Linked DNA regions of Homo sapiens: region 2 is linked to region 1. A link means that fine-mapping ties the variant in region 1 to the expression of a gene that starts in the linked region. Tissue or cell type: esophagus mucosa. Region 1 holds a variant in brackets; the other region holds the start of a gene. All regions are shown on one strand. Distances are from middle to middle.

Region 1 (8,000 bases):
TGTTGGTCACACGTAGCCAGAGTTCCACAGGGCCTGTCTCTTTCACACGTATGCACAGCCCACTTACACATCTCAGAGGCTACATACTGCTTTTAGAAAACAGGAGAAGCCTTTATCATGGCCTTTGGGGCCCTGCAGAGTACCCCTGCCTGCCTCCCCGGCCTCGTCTCAAGCCAGCTCTCTCTCATGATCCCCTCTCCAGTCCTTCTGGCCTTCATTCTGTTCTTCCGACCTCACCATGTTTTCCACTTTCCACAGGGCCTTTGTGTGTGCCTTTCCCTCTGCTTGTACTGCCCTTCTCCCGCACCCCTTTGCCTGGTTAGTTCTTACTTACCCTTTAGGCCTTCAGGTCAACCATCACCTCCTCTGAGATGCCCTGTCCAGTCCTTCAGCAAAGTGGGGTGCCATGGTCATACACTCTTGGGGTTCCTTGTTATTTTCGTTCAGGACACTTTCATTGTGTGTAATTGTAGGTTTCTGTGATGATGATGATGATGATGATGATGATGATGATGATGATGATTTGAAACGGAGTCTTGCTCTGTCGCCCAGGCTGGAGTGCAGTGGCACAATCTTGGCTCACTGCAACCTCCCCCTCCCAGGTTCAAGTGATTCTCCTGCCTCAGCCTCCTGAGTAGCTGGGATTACAGGCGCCCGCCACCATGCCTGGCTGATTTTTGTACTTTTAGTAGAGACAGGGTTTCACCATGTTGGCCAGGCTGGTTTTGAACTCCTGGCCTCAAGCGATCCACCCGCCTCGGCCTCCCAAAGTGGTTTTGGTGATTATTTGATTAATGCCGGTCTTGCCCAGTGGAATGGAGGGTCCCTGCAGACAGGGACCACTTTGCTGGCCTTTTCTCATAGTGAAGTCTCTTTCCTTACCACTGTATCCTTAGTGTCACACATAATAGGTGCTCATTAAATATGTGTTAAATAAGGGACTCCATTTTAGTGGCACCTCCTCACCTGTCTAATACCAGACACTATCTGAAGTTTTACGTCCCTCCAGAAGCCTTCTGCCTCCCAGCCTTGCCTGTAGCTGACAATGCTTTTGCCGCCCCAAGCTCCCCAGTCCTTTCCTGTAAGCCACCCAGACTCTCATCATCCAGATCACCTGGGGATTTCACAAAGGGAAAGATTCTGATTTAGTAGGTTGGGGTAGGCGCTGAGAATGTACATTTTTAACAAACTTCCCTGAACCTCTGCTGCTGGTCAGGGACCACACTTTGGCCTGGCTTGAGAGGTAAGGGCACCGGGTCATAGCTGCTTGGCCAAATCACCATAGAAGACATGGTTCACACAGGGTCATGGCACTGGCCAATTGTAAGTAGGCACAGTAGTGTGCCCCTGCAGTCCCAGCTACTTGGGAAGCTGAGCTGGGAGGATCACTTGAGCCTGGGAGGCGGAGGTTGCAGTGAGCCGAGATCATGCCACTGCACTCCAGCCTGAGTGACAGAGCAACACCCTGTATCAAAAGTAAAAAAAAAAAAAAAAAAAAAAAAATCCCTTTAATTTCCGTCTTTCACTCCCTGCTCACCACAAATAACTAAAAAAGAAAGGAGGGGCCAGGCACGGTGGTTCACGCCTGAAATCCCAGCACTTTGGGAGGCTGAGGCGGGCAGATCACGAGGTTAGGAGATCGAGACCATCCTGGCTCACACAGTGAAACCACGTCTCTACTAAAAATACAAAAACAAAATTAGCTGGGCGTAGTGGCGGGTGCCTGTGGTCCCAGCTACTCAGGAGGCTGAGGCGGGAGAATGGCATGAACCCGGGAGGCAGAGCTTGCAGTGAGCCGAGATGGCGCCACTACACTCCAGCCTGGGCAACAGAGCGAGACTCCGTCTCAGAAAAAAAAAAAAAAAAAAAAAAAAAAAAAGAGGAGGAAAGGCAAGTTTTCTTTTTTTCCCCTGACTTTCTAATGTGCAAGGGAAGACCTGAGTGAATGAGGGGAGACAGCCTTTGTACTTTGTCACTCTTCTTTGGATCACTGTAGTCCTCATATCTGTGCCTAAAGAACTCTCATTGTCTTCCCCAGCCCTGTCCCCTCTCCACACCTCTGGGCTGAGTAGGAAGCCGATGAGTGGCTCCTGGACCTTTTCCAAGCACAACTGAAGTGACTGAAGTGCGGGCCCTTCCCATGGAATGCCACTCCCTGAAGAGCAGTACAAAGTTGGGGAACCCACCGGGGACTGGTGGGTGAGGCCCGCTCTGCCAGCTGGGAGTCCTCACGGGGCCTTTGTTGTCTTCTCCTGAGATCCCTCCCAGCACTCTCAGCTAGCAGTGCTCTGATCTCCTGGACCTCTGGATCTGGGAGAAATGAGGGGAGAGAGAGCTTTCCAAGTGTCTGAAAGTAGGAGGCCGGACTCTGCAGAAAGCAAGCACAATCCACATTTCCCTCTCTTTCTGCCCCTCCCCGTCCTGGCAGGTCCCTGGATGGCCGGTTGCAGGTGTCCCATCGGAAGGGGCTCCCTCATGTCATCTACTGCCGCCTGTGGCGATGGCCAGACCTGCACAGCCACCACGAGCTACGGGCCATGGAGCTGTGTGAGTTCGCCTTCAATATGAAGAAGGACGAGGTCTGCGTGAATCCCTACCACTACCAGAGAGTAGAGACACCAGGTATGCTGCCTGGCCTGCCTGTGGGGACAGCAGGTGCCAGGGGTCATCACCTCTCCCCGGCTCCCCATCCCCCCGAGGGTCTGCGGTGCACTTGGGGGTGCGGGGACTTTGGTGCTGGTCTGGCATCGACACTGAGCCACCTCTGCTCTGTCTCCCCCGGACAGTTCTACCTCCTGTGTTGGTGCCACGCCACACAGAGATCCCGGCCGAGTTCCCCCCACTGGACGACTACAGCCATTCCATCCCCGAAAACACTAACTTCCCCGCAGGCATCGAGCCCCAGAGCAATATTCCAGGTAGGCACGTGGGCGGCACAGGCTGGCCTGGGAGGCAGGGGCAGCGGTCAGCCCCGACATCAGTCCTGTGGCCCCAATCTCTGCCCCCTGGCCGTCCCCCGCTCACCCCCTCTTTGCGCACAGCTCTGGCCTGAGGGCCCCTGACTCAGAACCGCATCCCTGTTGGGAGAGGACCCATGACCTCAGCTCCCCCCTCACTAGTGATGCTTTTCTTGGCATAGAGGAGCAGCGTGACCCTTCCGCCCGGCCTTGGTGCAGTCATTTATTTTGGAAGCGGAAATAGCAACACTGTTTCTCTCACCGCCCTTGAGGCCCGGACTGGTGTTCAGTCCCAATAGACTGGGGGTCTGCAGAGGCGGGGAGTGAGCTGAGGGCCAGGCAGCAAGTGCGGAGAGCTGGCTCTGTAAATTCGCCTGGGCATCAGGCCTCGGTGAGGGGCTCCAACCTGGGTGGGAATTGAAGTGACTTTGAGTTTTCACTCTGCAGGGAGAAATGGGCTTTGCCGTCAAAGACTGCAAATGTTTTTAGAAGCCCCTCATTTACATGCAAATAACGTGTGAATCACCAGCACTTTCAGACTCCAGGAAAGCTGTGCTTGGCAGCACTTGGGCTAGTCACTTTTGCTTGCTGGGGCAGTAATCCTGCTGCGTTCCTCTTAGAGCATTCTAATTTGGACGTGACGTTCATCCTGGGTTAGTTTACTGGGCTGAGATTGGCTACAGGCCTGTGTGCTTGGGTCAGAGTGTTAAGGAGGAGACCCACTGTCCAACCTTCTCAGATCCTTTGCGGGTAGCCCTGGCGTCCCGCGGGTAAGTCAACTACTCCCTGTTCAAAGAGCAAATCTTGGAGGGCTTCAGTCAGGGTCTGGGGGAGGTTTCAGAGAAATAGATCACACTGTCTTTGCCGTCATTGAACTTGCAACCTAACTGCTGAGTGAGGACACGTCCCTTAGAGACAACAAATAATAACACCTGGTCTGCACAGAAGAAGATAGTAGGGACCAAAGGGTGGGTCTGAGCCTGCAGATCTTCAGAGGACAGAAAGGGGTGAGGCGGAGGCAAGTCTGGACGCCTCCCTGGAGG[G/A]GGTGGGGCTTAACCCTCACCTTGAAGGACCAGGATAAGTTAGCCTGGCAGAGGCTCTAGGAGTACACATTTCAGACTTGGGAGTTGATCCGGTCCTGCGTGAGCAAAGGCAGTTATGATCCAAGCGGGAGTCAGAGGTGGACAGGGGCGAGGACAACAGAACCAAGAGCTGGAACCTCTACTCCAAGACCTGGAGCTCCTACAGCCACGGATGCTAGCATCATGGTGTGCATGTGTGATGTCTTTGCAAAAGGTGTCTCAGAGCCAAGCTGTGAAGGCCTTTTAACAGACCACCTTCCTTCTGATTCCCAGAGACCCCACCCCCTGGCTACCTGAGTGAAGATGGAGAAACCAGTGACCACCAGATGAACCACAGCATGGACGCAGGTCAGTCATGCAGGGTCATGCTCTTATTCTTAACTGATTAGCAGCTGGTGGGTTCATCCCTTCCATCCCTTCCTCTTCGCCCTCTCCCTCCCTCCCTTCTATCTCTCTCTCCAGTATTTGTAGAGCAACCGCGATGTGCAAGGGGCAGGGCATAGAAGAGGGTCCGAGCTGCTCACAGATGATGGGGGAGATTGACAGGACAGTCAGTAGTCACTGGGCCATCTCGTGTATGCCCTGATGGAAGATGCCGCATGGCACCAGGCACACAGCAGGGCCACTTCACCCGGTCTGGGGAGGAGCAGCACCTTGCAGTCCAGGTTTTTCCCCAGGTTGAGTCTTGGTGATGTGTAAGTGTTAGCCAAGCTGTTAGAGTGGGCAAGGGGTGTGCCAGGCAGAGTCATGGGGGTTGGGCAGGACAGCCTGGTGCATTCTGGGGACAGTAAGAGCTCAGTGTGTCTGGAGTCCAGAGAGTGTCTAGCCCAGGGAGCTCAGCGTGGCTGGAGGATACACTCTCTCCAGTGGGGAGAAGATGGGAGGGCCTGCCACACAGGGGTCCCAGTGTGGTGGACCTTCAAGCTAGCCAGACCACTTGGCATTTAGTCAGGGCTGATGGGAACCGCTGCAGGCTGTAAGCAGGGCCTGTGCCTTAGTGAGATGTCACCAGCAGCAGGGTAGAGAGTGGCCTTGATCACCTCAAGCAGTCACATGGGAGGCAAGGAGAGGCTGAATGGAACTAATGCCTCTTCTGATGACCAGTGGAGACCCCTGAAGCCAGTATTTTTGTGTGACAACCACATGTGATGTGTGTGCTCCTGCCGTGAGGGGCAGGGCTTATTTCTCTCCTGCTACATCTCCAGATGTTTCCCATATCATTTGTTATAGGACCAAATTGGCTCCAGACCAGCAGCTTCTTGAATTGAACCCCAGCTGCCACATAGAATGTGTACTGAGTTGTGTGTGGTTGGGAGAGGAGGAGAAGGGGAGAGGGAACCACGCAGATGTTCCATTCCGATGGTGGTGGGCATGCCTCGTACACACAGAGCCGCTAGACACAGCAGAGCCACCTGCCCTCGCACACAGCCCAGAAGAGATTGTGCAATTCCTTCCCCCACCTTTCCCAGACAGAGTCTCCCTCTGTTGCCCAGGCTGGCGTGTAGTAGCGCGATCTCAGCTTACTGCAACCTCTGCCTCCTGGGTTCAAGCTATTATCCTGCCTCAGCCTCCCAAGTAGCTGGGATTACAGGCAATGCAGCACCACGCCCGGCTCATTTGTGTATTTTTAGTAGAGACAGGGTTTCGCCATGTTGGCTAGGCTGGTCTCAAACTCCTGACCTCAGGTGATCTGCCCGCTTCGACCTCCCAAAGTGCTGGGATTACACCGCACCTGGCTGAGGTTGTGCAATTCCTGAGAGACCGAAAGAGACTCGCATGTACATTGTAGTTGCTGAAATCCAGCCTGGACATCGTGGCACTTTTGGGTTGAGCACACCCGGTGAAACACACCCACCCGGCGGAGTGACTAGTAGCGCGAACCAGCTGGAATGCATCGAAGACCTTCCTGTATCCGATGCCAAGTGACCGCTGCAAGCTTGCAGCTATTCAGTGCAGGCGTGGGAAGCAGGCCAGCGGAGCAGCATGTCTCCAGCTGCTGTGTTTCTTCCCACTCTGCGCTCCCTCTTCCCTTTCTGCTGCTCTCCATATTTGCACAATGATTATTGTTACAAACAAACATGGACCAGAGGGGCTGGAGATTGGAAAGAGCAGCCCAGATTTCACCCTGTCAGCTCTTGTTTCTTCTCCCTCCTCTTCCTCCTTGTGCCTCCCTTTACTCTGTCCCCTCTCCCTTCTTCCTTTCTTCTCATTAAGTGTGCCTGCAGGGTCCTGTTGTGAACATGAGTGATTTATCTACAGTAGAGACAGACCAGACTTGCGGACCCCAGCCAGTGTGTGGGTGGGGGCTCTCCTGTTTTAGTCTCTGTTCTTCAGAGTTGCCTGCTTGGATAGTCCAGTTGCTCACGGGCTTGGCTTCCCTGCCCCCCAGGGTGTGGTAGTGTCTCGGGCCAGAGGGTCACGTTGTTCCCCATGTCCCTTCACCTACATATGCGCCCTTTTAGACTTGTGAGAAGGCCCCTTGGACTTCCTAGGTCTTTGTGGTTCAGGCCAGCACAAAACAGGGGACAAGCATTTATCCAGTGCCTACCATGTAGCGGTCATGGTGTAAGCATTTTTATATGCACAGTCTTACTTAATTTTTACATGTCACACAGTAGATGATATTATCCTCATTTTATACCTGAGGAAAAAATTAAGGCTCATAGAAGTTAAACGGCTTAGCCAAACTCACGTAGCTGATTCGTGGGGTTGTCTAGACCCTGTGACTGATTCTGTAACTTAGTTCTCTCGGTGAATATTCCACATCCCCCTTTGCATTTGGGGTTACAGGGGAGAAGGAGAAATCCGTGGTTCTTCCCTTGCCCTCAAGGAGGTTACAGCTGAGTTGGGGCAAAAGAAGAGATTCCCACAAACAGCGCAAGGCAGCATTCACTTGAGGCCAGATGCTGGACCCAGTCTCAGGACTGATAGATTTCATGGGGTGGAATTAGACCCCATAGGGTGGTTAACAAATAGTCTCCTTTTTTATTTTTATTTTTTGAAACAGTCTCACTGCTGCCCAGGCTGGTGTGCAGTGGTGCAAACACAGCTCGCTGCAGCCTCCATCTCCTAGGCTCAAGTAATTGTCCAGCCTCAGCCTTCACCACTTACGGCTTATTTTTTTTTTTTTTTTTTTCTGTAGAGACAGGGTCTCCCTATATCACCCAGGCTGGTCTCAAACTCCTGGGCTCAAGTGATCCCCCAGTCTCAGCCTCTCAAAGTGCTGGGATTACAGATGTGAGCCATTGCACCCGGCCTCCGCAGCCTTCTTGATAGAGGAACAGAGGAGCGGGGACGAGCAGGATGCTGCTCTGGAAAAGTGTCCACTGTTTTATTTTTGAAGGCTGATACCATGTGAGTTCTTTTTTTCTGGAGGTGAGAGGTGTAGAGAACATAATAGAGTAAGAATTGGGTAGATTGAGACTTTTTCCCACGTGCATCATCATCTTTTGCATAAAGTGTTTGTCTGGTTGCTGAGTTGCAGGGTTTCTGAGGCAGGTTTGTGAGTTTCCTGAAATTGATCTTTCCAGCACCTGAGCTGCTGCAGCCTCTGACCAAGGTCGGTGGCTGGTGATGCTGGGGAGGCCTCAAGCCCTGCCTGTGTGGGAGGGCTGGCCTCCTGCTTCCTGGGTCTTTGCAGCTTGGGAGAAGGGCTTCCCTGCTCCTCTCATTTTCCTGAGGGCATAGTTAATAGGGCAGGTGGTGTAAGCTAAAGAAAAAATGTGTCACTTATTCTAGTTGAGAATTTAGCAGCCCTGAGCTGGGAGTCTTGGTTAGGATCATAAAACTATCTGAGACCTCTGAGATCATAATCATAAGAGACCTCTGAGATCATCCACTCAATGCATTCATTCCAGACAAGAAATTGGGGCCCAGGGAGGGAAAGTAGAGGCAAGGGTATGGGCTAGGCCTTCTCCTGGGACCCCTCAGTCCAGGGTTTTCTTTCTGCTGTGTTGGGCTA
Region 2 (8,475 bases), 100 kb before region 1:
ATTAGCTGGGTGTGGTGGCACATACCTGTAATCCCAGCTACGAGGGAGGATGAGGCAGGAGAATCACTTGAACCTGGGAGGTGGAGGTTGCAGTGAGCCAAGATCGCGCCACTGCACTCCAGCCAGGGCAATAAGAGCGAAACTCTGTCTCTAAATAAATAAATAAATAAAATTTAAAAATTCCATTGTGTGACTACAATACATCTTGTTTTTCCACCCATCCATTGATGGACACTTGAGTTACTTCTACCTTTTGACTGTTGTGAATAAGGCTGCTACGGACATGGGTGTGGAAATACTCGTAGTCCCTGCTTTCAATTCTTTTGGGTATATCCCCAGAAACAGAATGACCGGATCATATGGTAATTCTGCTCAGTTTTTTGAGGAACTGCCATACATACACCACAGCATTTTCCTCAGAGGCAGCACTACTTCACATCTTCACCAGCAATGTGCAAGGATTCTAATTTCTTCACATCCTTTCCAACATGTTATTTTCTGTTTTTTAAAAGCGAATAGCTGGCCAGGCGCGGTGGCTCACGCCTGTAATCCCAGCACTTTGGGATGCCAAGGTGGGAGGAATCAGCTGAGATCAGGAGTTTGAGACCAGCCTGACCAACATGGATAAATCCCGTCTCTACTAAAAATACAAAATTAGCCAGGCGTGGGTGGCACATGCCTGTAATCTCAGCTACTCAGGCGGTTGAGGCAGGAGAATTGCTTGAACCCGGGAGGCGGAGGTTGCAGTGAGCCAAGATGGCACCATTGCACTCCAGCCTGGGCAACAAGAGCGAAACTCCATCTCAAAAACAAAGAAAAAAAGATAATAGCCATCCTAATGGATGTGAAGTGGTTCAATGTATATCTTTTTATTTGTATAACTTCTTTCAAAATGTATATAATTATTTTGTGTATATGTAATTTGTTTTACATAGTAGCATTATGCTATTCCTTTCCCTCTGTGTCTTACTATTTTCTGTTGGAACTGTGTTTAAAATCTATACATTTGTTTTATGTACATGGAATTCATTGCTTCTCACTTTTGCATAGCACTTTATAGTATGCATGAATCACATCCATGTATATTGAGAACCTACTATGTGCTTGTACCAAGCTTTCTATATGATTTAATCTGATTCCATACAGCAATCCTAAGAAGGTGTTGTAATTATCACATTTTATGGATGAGAAAACTGACACACACAGAGTTAAGGAACGTGCCCAGAGTCACACAGCCGGAAGTGGAAGAGGTAGAAGTTTAACCCAGGTCATTCTGGTGCCACAGAAGAGCTCACACGTGTAAGGTGTTACAAAGAGCTATAGGTAGAGATCTGACTGTAGACAGAGGCTCTCTCTTAGGTGAGGGCACTCTGATAAAAGTTCTAGTCCTGATTTGGCTACTTATCTTCACAGTGCAAATCACCTTCCCTTACAGACATCACTTTCTGTCTGTGTAAGATGAAGATGATTTTAATGCTTTTTCTAGATTCACTACTTGTTGATTAAATACCCTTAAGCTAATGGGAAAATAATCAGAATTGAAGTCAGGTGTTTGTTTCTTTCGTGTATTTGGAGTGGCTGGCCTACCTGGGAGCCACTCCAAATACACGAAAACCCTCTGATGTGTCTATTCACGAGGTGAACTGTTCATAGGATGGACTATTCCCAGGGAAACAGTTGCTGTCTCCACTTCCATCCCACCTCTCCTGAACTTTGCACTTACCATGGTGAAAAATTAACTGGGCTAATGTTTCCCTCCCAAGGACAACCTCTGCAAAAGCAGGTATGGCTGGGCCCCAAAAGACCAGGTGCCAGAACAGAGTTGTACCCATCCAGAGCAGCCCACCCATTCACTGCCCAAAGTCAAGATCAAGAGAACATGCAGGGTCTTCTCAGCACTGGAAGAATCAGTTCCTCAGCCCTCCTCAGAGCTTTCTGAAACTGGACTTAGTCCCCCAGTGGAGGGACTTCTCTTGGAGAAACAGGCCTGAGGAGAAAGAACTAGCCCAGAAATGGCACTTATTAGACTTGTAGGTGGGTCCAGCACTATTTTTCTGCATGCACAGCTGTTCTTGTCACACGGATGCCAGCAGGGAAGCATGGTTCTGCCACACTAACTAGCTGGCTGCCTAGTTATTTCCTCCCCTCAGGAAAATGAGAGGGCTGAATGAGGGCCCCTTCCCATACCATGATTTTACAGGGTGAAGTACCTGTCAGGTCCTTCTACTACATGTAATCCTCAAATCTCTCTGACGCTCTTCCTCTACAGTGCAAATCACTCTCCTTCAGCAGACATTGCTCTCTCTGTAACATAAAGGACTTGAACTACAGGAGGACAGTTACAATGCTCTTTCTGGATCCACCACTCTGCACAGTGAGAACCGCTTGCTCCATTCTTACAGCGGAGAGAACGGACGCTGCCCAAGGGGAAGAAGAGAAAGAGCCGGGATTGGAAGCCAGGCCAGTCACTGATGGATCCTGAGCCCCTCTTACTTTCTTTGGCTACCTCTCAATGGTTGGACTTGTTCAGGTTAAGATTAACACTTTACTGGACGATGATGACTGCAAGGCCCCTGCCCATCTTTGCCCACTCAGTCACATCATCCTCATCCCCACCCTTTGATGCTTCTCTAGGCTGTGAACGCCTTGAAAACCTTAGTCTTTTATTTTGGAAGTTCAGGAACTGAATAGGAGGGCTGCAACTCAGAGCTGCTCCGTCAATGTGTGTTAAACTTATTTGACCTCCCTCCACCACTTTTCATGGCATTAGCAATGCAAACCTTTTCACATGAGCTTCCCACAGCCACCCTAGGAGATCGCGAGGGAAGCTACCTCTAGCCCCATTTTACAGGTGAGCAAATAATCCTTGCAGTGTTACAACAGTGTGCCCGTGTAGAGAACTGTTTTGCAAAGAGCTCGATCAATGATGTCATCTTTGCCTTCCGTGACCCAGGCAGCTGGGTGCAGTCTCAAGATCGGAGACTGAGGCTTCAACAAAGTATTGGGTTCAAATTCCAGCTCTGCCACTTGGAACCCTGAGTAAGTAATGTAATCTCTCTGTGCCTCCGTAAACGTGAGGCACAGGAACATCTACCTCACCAACCACTGTTAAGACTGAATCAAAGGGCAGCAGGCGGACTACCCGGAATGAAGAAAGCAATCAATAAATGTGGATTGTGTCATCCTTGTCTCTCTTGACGGACGGGAAGAGGAGAGTGAAACCTAAGACCACAGCGGCAGCGCGTTAACAGGAGGACCAGCAAGGAACGGAAGCCAGGTTGTCAAGCCTCAGTTGGCTTTCACGTATTCTCCTTTTCAGGCGGGTATTTAGGAAGAGAGGAGGGTGAGGAGCACAGCGCACTTCTGCAGCAGCAGCTGCGGATTGGCTTGTGGGAGGCGGTTCTCCGGAGCAAGGCAAGGGCCCCTGCCGCTTCTGGGCTGACTGTGGATTCCGCCACACCTCACAGGGCTTTGTAACTCCCCACCCACTTGAGGGTTCCAGATAACTTTTTTTTTTTAACAAAGCAGGGGTGGGGGTGGGAGATTCCTGCTGTTAAAAACAAACAAAGGGCTTAGACACCGGCTAGTCGGCTGCGGGAGGCAGCAAGAGAAAGGCCGAGGGGCCTGGAGTAGCTCCTGAAAACCGCCGAGGGCCCTGCGGGCAGACGCCCCTGAATTCTTTTGGTGGGGAGAAAAGCCGCGGAGCTCCCCAATGTGCCAATTGGTTTGTTGTTGTTTTGCTTTTTTTGAATACACAAACTCTCCGAAAACTCCTGTCTTGCCCCACTTTTTTGTGAGTTCATTGCTTTGGAAACAAAACTCTCTTCCATTTATTGGCAATTATCAAATTTCCGATCCTTCTCTATCAGGAGATCCAGCAACAAACACCCTGTTATGTAAATTTCTTTCAAAGATAAATTCGAAAGCCCCTCCATTCATTCCTTCAAGAACTCAACAGATGTCCTTGAGGCTCATTTTCTGCCGGGCACTCGGTTCACAAGGCTCAAGAGACCCCTGGCTCCAGCCATTGTCCAGGTTGTCACTGGTGTCCCCAGCTCTCCACTTCTGAGGACCCACTTCTCACCCCCTCCTCCTCCGCACACGTTCCCGAGGCTCTCGGCCGGTGTGATCTCACCGACTAGAGAATAAAAACAGCCCAGGGGCGCCGGCGCCGGCCAAGGGCCTTGACGGGGATCAGCAAGCGCGAGGCCAAGTGCGGGCCCCAACTTCCTGGGCCCGGGCCTTCCGCGCGCCCCCTCTCGGGCTCGGGTCCTCTCCAGGGTGCACTCGCGTCCGGACGACGCTTACTTGCTGCGAGTCCAACCCTCTCCGGCCCGCAACTCCAACCGAGCCGCCCGAGTGTGGACTCCGAGAGCGGACGCCACGGGCCGCGCTCAGCCCTCCCGCCCGAGGCCCCTCTCGCCGTGTTTCCCAGGACTTCCTCCCCGCGCCCGCCCGACTTCAGGTCGGGGCCGCGCAGGGTCCCGCGCGCTCCAGCCAGGACTGCCGCCGCCCGGGTCGCCCACGTGGGCGTGCTGGGCGCGGGGTGGTGGCCGGCCGGGCGCCCTCCCCGGAGCAGGGGGCGGGCAGGGCGCCCGCGGGAGGAGGTGGCGGGGCGCGGGGGAGGAGGCGGGGAGCCCCGGCGGCGAGGGGGCGGTGACAGCACTTGGAAAGGAGGCTGCACGCGGATTTGCATGAAACACAGACTGGGAGCGGGCGGGAGCGGGAGCGCGGCGCACGCCCCGGGCCGGCCCAGCCAGCGAGCGAGCGAGCGGCGAGCCGGGAGGAGGAGGGTGGCGGGGCGGTGAGGCCGCAGAGGCGGAGGGATCTGCGCATCAAAGCTAGCGAGGCGAGCGAAGTTTGGCCGGGGGTTGGACTTTCCTTCCCGGAGGCGGCACCCAAACAGCTACCCCGTGCGGAAACCCAAACTTCTGCTGCCACTTGGAGTCTCGCGGCCGCCGCCTCCGCCCCGCGTTCGGGGCCTTCCCGACCCTGCACTGCTGCCGTCCGCCCGCCCGGCCGCTCTTCTCTTCGCCGTGGGAGCCGCTCCGGGCGCAGGGCCGCGCGCCGAGCCCCGCAGGCTGCAGCGCCGCGGCCCGGCCCGGCGCCCCGGCAACTTCGCCGAGAGTTGAGGCGAAGTTTGGGCGACCGCGGCAGGCCCCGGCCGAGCTCCCCTCTGCGCCCCCGGCGTCCCGTCGAGCCCAGCCCCGCCGGGGGCGCTCCTCGCCGCCCGCGCGCCCTCCCCAGCCATGTCGTCCATCCTGCCTTTCACTCCCCCGATCGTGAAGCGCCTGCTGGGCTGGAAGAAGGGCGAGCAGAACGGGCAGGAGGAGAAATGGTGCGAGAAGGCGGTCAAGAGCCTGGTCAAGAAACTCAAGAAGACGGGGCAGCTGGACGAGCTGGAGAAGGCCATCACCACGCAGAACGTCAACACCAAGTGCATCACCATCCCCAGGTGGGGGCCCGCCCGGGGGGGACCCGGGGTCACGCCGGCCCAGCCCCCTGGCACTGCGGGGCCGACCCAGTGGGGCTGGAGATGGGAAGAGGGAGAGAGAGGGAGGGAGTGAGACTGTGTGGGTGCGTGTGTGTGAGAGTGGGAGAGCGCGGGCAGGAAGGGGGTGGGGGGACCCCAAACAAAACCATCTCTGATTTGCAAAGATCAGAGCCCGAGGCTTCCACGCGGCACTCTGGCTTCCACACCTCACATTCCCTTTCCACCTCCGGGAGGGGAGAGCGGGTTGCTGCGGGACTCGGCCGCCCCCACTCCGGGGAGCTGGGGCTGGAAGTTGAGGCCCGCTTTGTTCGGCTCCGCGGGCCGGAGCCCCTCCTCCGCCGCCGCCTCCCGCCCCCGCGGCCCGCGCTCGTGGAGGTGGTGGTGTCTTTGCGTTTCTTTTCTTCAGTCGGGTCTCCCCACTTTCCTCTACAGGAATGCGGTCCGTACAGCTGGGGCTGTGGGTGAGGAGCGGGAGCCTAGTGATTGACAGATTCCTTCTTCGTTCTTTCTTTGCCTTCGGGATTAGCATTTTTATCGAGTATTTTTAGACTCGGTTGTGCCAGTCTCCCGCCCCCTGAGCATGCACGCACTTTGGTTGCAGTGCAATGCTCTGACTTCCAAATGGGAGAGACAAGTGGCGGAAAATAGGGTCTTCTCCCACCTCCCACCCCCCCATCCCGACTCTTTTGCCCTTCTTTTGGTCCAAGAGATTTTGAAACCGTGCAGAACGAGGGAGAGGGGCAGGCTGCAGCCGGGCAGATAACAAAACACACCCCAAAGTGGGCCTCGCATCGGCCCTCGCATTCCTGTAGAGCCTTCCTTCCCAAAGCGCGCTGCCATCTGTCTGGATCTCCTTTATCCTTCCCGTTGCGCGCTAGCTAGGTCGGGCGGGAGCCCACAGATGGCTGATAGAAGGGGTCAGTGACTTCACTCCCCCAGGGCCTTCCTTAGCTTAGATGTGCCTGGCTGGGAACTGGGGGTGCGGGTACCTTGGCTTCCTGTCTCTACCTCTCAGCCTCCTTTGATGCTGAACCAAGGGAGAGAGCGTGTGTGTTGGGGGCTGGCTCTTTTGGGGGTCCCAGGCTGCCGAGGAATGAGTAGAAAGCACCAGGGACTGTCAGCCGCAAAGGGATTGTCATCCCTGCTCCTGGGCCAGGGTGGACTCCATCCTTGGCCACCTGCTTGGGGCAGTTGTACAGGGGCTGCCAGGCGAGTCAGGCAGGCACAAAGCAACATCTGTCCACGGGAACCGAGGGCAGGCCTCCCCTGGAAATAAATGCCACATATGGTGGGAGTGCGGACTTAAATTTTTTTTAACTGGGTGGATCCAGTCAATAAAGGGGGAGGGAAGGCGGTGTGCTGTCTGGGGAAGTCTCTGGGCGTGTGATCGGGAGCCAGAATTGACTTCAGAGGAGGTGGTGTGATGTGATGGTCAGAGAGACCTGGGATTTGGTTCCAGCTCTGGTTGTTAATTCTTCTGTATTCCTTCCGTGGGGGTGGCTAGGGTAGAGTGGGTGAGTATGCTACTTCTCTTTCTGGGGAGGGGTCTGCCAAACCTACCTTCTCCTTATCTGCCTGGGTGCATTGAAGACAAGTGCTTTATGTATTGAAACAGAAGAAAAAAAGTGGTATCAATTGTAAAACAGGCAGCTGTGAAAAGTGTTTCACAGTTTACAAAGCACTTTCACATGGTTTTCTGAGGTCCTCAAAAAAAGACAGAAAGCAAGCAAGCAACCAGCCATGGAAAGTAGATAAGGTTGTTAGGCTTAAGATTATCACATTTTTAAAGCAGAGGAAACCTTAAAAGAGAGAGGTGAAAAGGCTTGAGTCATAGACATGGGGTTCTGCCTGAATGTGCTCTTTCTGCTGCCCCATGCTGCTTTATACTTTGAAGATCCTGAATACATTCTTTGCTGAATGCTAAAGCTGTGTTAGCTTGGGGAGGGCCCTGTGGATCTTTGTATGTGCGGTTGCTTCTTTAATCTTTGGGCTGGTGATAGCTTGGCAGAGAGGCCTTGCTTTCCCTTGCCTTGGTAGGAGTTTGTCCTCTGTGGGGCCATACCTTTGGCCTGCCTTTTCCTCTTCCAAAGTCCTGCTGAGACTTTGGAAGCCTAAGACGTGTGAACGCTTTGGATGATTCTGAGAGTTCAAGCCAACCTGCCCTGTGGCCTTCTCGTGACTTTGTTAGGACTGAGGCATCTTCTGCCTGCCTGGATAGGACTGAATACAAAAGTAGATTTTTTTTTTCATCTTTTTTTTCAGTTAGGGAAACCCAGTTGCTTGGGTGGATCCAGACAAAATGGATTTTCATCCTTGGATTTTGTGCCCACGCCTCTGGGTCACCTTGTGTCCCTTGGCAACAGCTGCTGCTGTTTTGGTCGTGGGCAGAAAACTAAAGGCCACGTCTTGGGGAGGTGGCTGGTTTGGCCCTGTGCTGGTGATATCAATGTGTCTGCTAAGCCCCATAGATTGCAGTGTTGCTTGTCAAATTGTCTGCTTTCACCACAACTGCCTTTTAGTTTGGAAAGTAGAGAAAGGAAAATGTTTAACTTAGTCATTCCCCCTGTGTGTGGGGGGTTGGTCACTGGGTGCTTAAAAACACTCTGCAAGATCTGGACTCCGGGGTTTAAGGAGCCCTCAGTCTAAGGAGATTAAGCCAAGTGTGTTTTGGCTAATATATAATCATGAGCAGCAACAGCAACATTTGGCAATTAGAGCTGTATACTAGGGACTTCCAGACCACAGGCTTGCTTCTCTGTGACACCAGCTCTGACTTGTTTCAATTATCAGGGGAGCTGGCGTGATACACACTTATCGACATAAAGAAGGTGAAAGAGATTGGTGCCAAGGAAGTGGTAAGAGCTTCATTTAGATACACCAACAAAGGGGCTGTCAGGATACTCTGAGGTCTGGCAGGATTGGCAGAATTTACACAAGTTTTATAACAGCCTCTCATGCCTCACCTGCTTGAGTACCTGAGT

Alleles and levels. Alleles are on the strand shown, and positions count from the first base shown. SD is a standard deviation of normalised expression in the study named.
In carriers of allele A in region 1, the expression in esophagus mucosa of the gene that starts at base 4,697 in region 2 tends to be lower than with G alone (small effect, 0.40 SD a copy in GTEx).

The links.
Region 2: SMAD3 starts here. The variant in region 1 is fine-mapped to the expression of SMAD3 in esophagus mucosa (GTEx, PIP above 0.99).

Annotation. Positions count from the first base shown.
Region 1 is chr15:67,162,467-67,170,466 of GRCh38, forward strand. SMAD3 (SMAD family member 3) reads left to right here. Exons shown (of 9, transcript NM_005902.4): 2 at 2,429-2,622; 3 at 2,787-2,918; 4 at 4,313-4,387. Among named protein-coding and RNA genes, the nearest start is that of SMAD3-AS1, 20 kb to the left of the region's middle. RefSeq lists enhancers at 4,387-5,056, 5,057-5,728, 5,729-6,398. The variant G/A (reference allele first, on the strand shown) is at 4,001.
Region 2 is chr15:67,060,906-67,069,380 of GRCh38, forward strand. SMAD3 (SMAD family member 3) reads left to right here and starts at 4,697. Exons shown (of 9, transcript NM_005902.4): 1 at 4,697-5,455. The coding sequence starts at 5,250. It overlaps SMAD3-DT (SMAD3 divergent transcript), which reads right to left and starts at 3,277. Exons shown (of 6, transcript NR_135686.1): 1 at 2,211-3,277. RefSeq lists enhancers at 1,643-1,787, 2,945-3,715, 5,255-6,023, a cis regulatory region at 1,708-1,721 and silencers at 4,474-4,963, 5,134-5,293, 5,444-5,493, 5,744-5,803, 5,824-5,913.